Regions from separate parts of the Homo sapiens genome. Here region 2 is linked to region 1. Evidence: fine-mapped expression QTL. A gene starts in region 1. The other region holds a variant in brackets. All regions are shown on one strand. Distances are between the middles of the regions. Region 1 holds the start of HECA (hdc homolog, cell cycle regulator). Region 2 has its middle 38 kb from the start of CITED2.

Region 1 (2,908 bases):
ATTTATGCCAGCTGTTCTCTGATGTGCCCAAGGCAGATAAAATCTATCCATGGAGGTTTCATTTCAGTGAGAGGGAGATATACAAGAAATAAGTAAACACCTACATTGCCAACATAATTAGAGATGGAGGAGGAAAATAACAGGGTGGAACTTCTGACAGCTCTCCTGGGAAGGTCTCTGTGGAAGTGATGTATTTGAGCTGAGACCTGAAGGAAGGGAAGGAGTTGGCCGAAAAGGTAGAATAGAATTGCAGAAAGAGATCAAGGGGAGCTCTTCCCAGGGGTCCCCTGCCCTCATATTGCCTGTCTTCACTGGTGTCACCTAATCTCCTACTGCTCATAACCTGGCTACCTATCTTTCACTATCTTTCAGGACAACTCAGCCCTATGCATAGGGATGGGTTCCCCCCAAGCAGGGACTGCTTCAGAGTCCAGGCAACATCTAGTTACATCCCTGGATGATGGGTCTTGTTTGAGTGAATTGTTTTCACCACCAGACTGTGAAGGCTTCCCATTCAGGACCCTGGTGTTCATCCCCATTGTCTGGGAACTCTACCCTGTTTCTTTCTTTCTTTTCTTTTTTTTTTTTTTTTTTTGAGACAGAGTCTCGCTCTGTTGCTCAAGCTGGAGTGCAGTGGCGCGATCTCGGATCCCAGGTTCAAGTGATTCTCCTGCCTCAGCTTCCCGAGTTTCTGGGACTACAGGCGCACGCCACCACGCCCAGCTAATTTTTTTTTGTATTTTTAGTAGAGACAGGGTTTCACCACGTTGGCCAGGATGGTCTCGATCTCTTGACCTCGTGATACACCCGCCTCGGCCTCCCAAAGTGCTGGGATTACAGGCATAAGCCACCGCGCCCGGTCCCCTGTTTCTTTAATTACTGTTACTGAAAGGCATAGCCTTTGAATGAGTTATTAATCCAAAATCTTTTGTTTTCCATTCTTGCTCTAGTCACAGCTTATTTTTCCAGACCATACTGTTCTAAGCCTCAATTACATTAAGGCCAGGAGGCCACCGAAGAACTCCACATGCCACTGCACTGGCGGGTGGAGCAAGTCAAGCAGGGCAGCTCATGAACGCCCGGGAGTCCAGGAGGCCCGGGTGGGGACGCCTGGATGACGTCACTCGAGGTGGGCAGGCCCCGCGCGGGGCGTGACGTCACGCGGGCGGTCCCGTCAGCCGTGAGGTCACCTGGTGGGCGCGGCCAGGCCGAATCCCCAGTGTCGTCACGGGAGGGGGCGGGCCCAGAGCGTGTCAGTGCAGCCGAATCAAAACAAGCCGGAGACCCGCCTTTTCCCTCCGGCTCGGGAGCGTCTCGCTTGCGCCCCGGGCCCGCGGCGCCCGCGCGGCTGCGAGCCTCGGGTGGCCGCGTGCCGGCTCCAGGAAGCCGGAGAGGGCGCGGCGGCCAGGATGGCGCGGCACGGGCCGTGCGGCTAGACGGGAGCCGAGGGAACCGCCGGCTCGCGCCCTCCGTTCTTTCCCGGAGCCGGCTTCACGCAGGGCCGGGAACGGCCGTGCCTCTGGGATCCGCCTTCGCTGACGCCGGGCACCTACCTGGACGCGAGCGAGCGAGATGCCCAACCCCAAAAACAGCAAAGGCGGCCGCAAAAACAAGCGCGCCAACAGCAGCGGCGACGAGCAGGAAAATGGAGCCGGGGCCCTGGCAGCGGCGGGCGCGGCGGGAGCGGCGGCCGGGGGGGCCCTGGCGGCGGCGGCCGGTTGCGGGGCGGCGGCGGCGGGCGCGCCGGGCGCCGGAGGCGCGGCGGGCGCCGGAGGCGCGGGGACTGGCGCCGCGAACGCTGCGGCCGCCGCGGGGGCTGCGGCCGCGGGCGATGCCAAAAACGGTAAGACGGGGCTGGCGGGGCGAGCGCCAACTTCCTCCCCGACGGGGACGGCGCGGTGGCGGGGCCCTGGGTGGCGCGGGCGGTGCGTGGACAATGCGAGAGTCAGGAAGTGCTCACCCCGCCCCTCCGCCCCGCCGCGGCTGCCCCTTCGCGGTCCCCACGCCTGGCGGCGGGGACAGATCTGCGGCCCCTGCCCGGTGTCCGCGCGGGGGGCAGCCCGCGCCCCACACTCTGAGGGGCTCCCGGCTGCGGCAGCGCTGCCCTCGGGCCCAGCCTGCTGCCCGCGCTGGCACTGCCCCGCCGTGTGTGCCGGGCCGAAGGGAGGAAGGAAGGGAGGAAAGAGCCGCCCAAGTTGAGAAGAATGATCCGATTGAAAACTTAGGCACCGGTTAATTCTTCCCGGTGCTCCAAGGCCACCCGTAACCCCCGGAATGAAGGAGAGAGAGCCTCAATTCTTAGCACACCCAGGCTTGCTGCGTCGATCGCCACAGGTGAAGAGGCCTCGAGACATTTAGGGCCTCTGTGTTTGCTCTTTAATTTTTTGGCTTGCTTGAGGAAGGAAGAGAATCTGAACTTGACTTCCGTTCTCAGCCCGGAGTTAAAAAAAAAAAAAAAAAAAGAAAAGAAAGAAAAGAAAAATCATTCTCTATGTCATTGTGCTTAACATTTTCAGAAGGAAGCCTCATAATCTTAGGTAGTGCCTGAATGTTCCTTTTGAGGGGACACTTAGGAACTGGCCCAGATGTGACAGGATTTCTGTTCTCATTACAGAGCCATGGTTTTCGTTATAAGGTGCTGGGCAAACACTTACTTATTTGGACAGTTCTTTGAATTCCTCTAGTCAGGCACTTTTTCCAGGAAGACAACGTAGGTATTTTAATGAAGGGAGATTTGAATTGTTATATCTGGCTTTTAATTTATAGCGTCAGCTTTTGAAGCCATTCTTTATGTAGATCAGGCACTTTTTTGTTTTGTTTTTTTTTTTTTAGACGGAGTTTGCAATTTCGCCCAGGCTGGAGCGTAGTGGCGCAATCTCGGCTCACTGCAACCACCGTCTTCCGGTCT
Region 2 (2,908 bases), 200 kb after region 1:
TCTCTGGGCAATTTTCACCATTTCAGCATACCCAAGAGAGAAATGACGTATAATTTTGTTATGCTGAAGAATTTGGCAAGCCAGCTAATGGTCTTACTAAAAGTGAAGAAATCCCTTTGGTGACAGATGCAGGAAGTTATGTCTGAATCATTTGGAACCATTGTAGAGAAGCCTTTGTTCCAAAAGAGATGTGTGGGGATTTTCTTGGGAAGAAAAGGTGTCTGAATATTCTTAAACCTCGAACAGATTTATCAAACTTGCTGCTTCATTTAATCCTTTGCCAAATGGGCTCATCTTCCATCCAACAGACTTCTCCCTAGCCATCTTCATCTTTCAAAAAGTCACCCTTAAAACGCATCTTGTGTTTCTTTCACTGCTGTGATGATGAAATCTGTCTCAAAAGAAGCATGTCGGTGTTGACTTCATAATCTTAGAGGCTGTAACATACAGGGAAGGCTGTTACTTAGAAACATACTCTCAGAAAGGTTTTTTGGAAGTTTTTAGGGAGGGGGCGAAGAAGAACTAGGGACAGGTAGATGGTGAATAGAATAACCTGAAGCCATGAGTCAAGGTCAACAGCAACAATAAGTCAAAGCAAGATCACTGAACATTGGTGAAAATAAAAAGAAGTGGAATCAGACTACAGAGGAAAATGAGTAAATTTAGTATCCAGAACTACTCTTAATGGGAAGTCCTATTAGCTTGTCTCCCATCAGAGTTAGGTGAAGTAATAATCTCCAAAAGGTGGGGCTGTTACCTCTGCAGGCGTTTAGAACTGGTCTGAACAAATCACCTGCAAGCTTTTTTGTGGTGGAAGAATGCTGTAGAACGGAGCTGTGAAAGCAAGTATAATTTCTTTTCTGACTCCCTCTGACTTTCACTTAATCATGTACAGGCAGTTCAAAAATCCTGCTGCCTCTTTCTTGCCAATTTCAATACAAATTCTCTCTGGCCAGAAAACTGATCATTTGGTATATAACCTTTTTTTTTTTTTTTTGGTTGGTTCCTCAGTTTCTCCACAACATCACCTGACATTCTGCTACATAAATAGCTATAATTTTAAATAAAATGAGTCAAACGCTAGTGTCAGGCCTTTACAAAGGCTCTCTCACCCTTTAAGATCGCTATAATCCCTCTTTTACATAAAAGGCAATAATGTTCAGACTCTAAGCTAGTGAGTTGAAACGCAAACTCTGAACCATCTCATCAGAAAAAAAAAAGAGCATAGGTTTAGAGTCAAATGAACTCCTGTGTGAATTCTGGCTTAGCATGCCTATTTCTGTCCCAATCT[A/G]TTCTATAATCTCCTTTATCCTTGTAGTGGAATTATTTTAAATTCTATCTTGAGACCCTTGTCTGGGAGCTTATATGATTCATTCCATCATTGCCCAAATGAGATAGACCAGGAGGCTGGATCCTCCTCTTAGTAGGGGTGGATGCTTTTTTAGTGGCTGTAAATGGATCAGTCCATGACTTAATTGTGCATGAAATAGAGATTTTTAAAAATTTTCTATAACCAAATTTAATTTCTGTCATAAATGCTAAATTTCTACCTGGTAATGACAAATTTAATTCTTCTAATTCAGGATAAACCTAGCCAAATTAGGATTTTTAAGACATTGTTTCAGGGTAAAATCATTCAATTTAGGCTTCTTCCCCCAAATTTCAATTAGCCCAAGTGGCATCTAACTTTAGGGAGGTGTTACGAATTAGGTAACCCCAAGTTATTTGCATTTCTTCTTTTCCTGAGAGTGGAAGTAGCAAGGTATAAAGTGTTATAATAATGGCTAGTAATTTGCAAAGAGGTAAGATGATCTTACAGGAGTAAACCAGCTTGCTGGAAATGAGTATTTTCAGTTAAGGGCCAAAATTGTGTAGCACGAGCTCCCAGAAAGCCCCTGGAATTGTGCCAGCAGACACGGCCATGAATTTGGCAGTGGCTGCTGTAGCCGTGAGGCAAGGTAGGCCTTTGCCACAGGATCAAAAGACAGACTGTAATAAGCTATGGATTTTTGGTGCTTTCCTTGTAATTAAAGCTATTAGAGAATCAGAATTTTATTTAGAAGCTTCTTTATTCCAATCAAAAAAGATAGTACATTCAACATTAGGACTTTACTGTCCTAATGAAGAGAAACTTCATTTGCTCTAAGAACACTGTAAGATGGACAATTTTGGAAACATATGGAATTCTCCCAAAGTGGCCAAATCATCATCGGTGAACTAGTGCCAGTTTGTGAGATGTGTGCAAGCATTTGGATAATAATAAAGAAGCAAGTGTCTGGACTGGCAGAAGTGCACACTTGAACTGAGATTACCCCTGGAGAAATGATCATGGTCAGTTGAATGTGTTGGTTCTGCATTTTGTGTCTTGAGCCACTAACCAGTGGCTGGCCACCCTTGACAAGAGACTTGATAATTTGTGGCCCTCAGCAGATAGAATTTTTGGATATTCTGTCTTTCATATTAACTGTCAGTTGTAAACACAGAACAGAGGAAAAATGGACCTTGTACGTTTTTTTGTTGGTGACTTGAAGTAAATTTCATTTACTGGGGAACATAAGCTTGACAAAATTTTTATTAACAGCTTTATTGAGGCCAAATTGACATACAATAAAATGCACATAATTAAACTATAAACCTTGAAAAGCTTTGACATTTGTATACACCCAGCATAATAATCAAGATAATGAAAATATGCATCATAAGTTTCCTCATGTCCGTTGGTAATACCCCCTTCTTCTCCCTGCTCCCCATACCTCTGAGTCCCCAAGCAACCACTGATCTGTTTTCTAACACTGTAGATTAGTTGGTGTTCTAGAATTTTACATACATGGAATATAGTGTGCATTCTGAGAAAAAATATATTTTTTTTCGCTCAGCATAATTTTGAGATTCTTCCATGTTTTGTGTG

Evidence for each region.
Region 2: its variant is fine-mapped to the expression of HECA in whole blood (GTEx, PIP above 0.99).

The regions. Positions count from the first base shown.
Region 1 is chr6:139,133,825-139,136,732 of GRCh38, forward strand. HECA (hdc homolog, cell cycle regulator) reads left to right here and starts at 1,256. Exons shown (of 4, transcript NM_016217.3): 1 at 1,256-1,843. The coding sequence starts at 1,573. RefSeq lists enhancers at 1,048-1,342, 2,208-2,327 and silencers at 1,048-1,237, 1,348-1,427, 1,828-2,097.
Region 2 is chr6:139,334,859-139,337,766 of GRCh38, forward strand. No RefSeq gene overlaps it. Among named protein-coding and RNA genes, the nearest start is that of CITED2, 38 kb to the right of the region's middle. The variant A/G (reference allele first, on the strand shown) is at 1,292.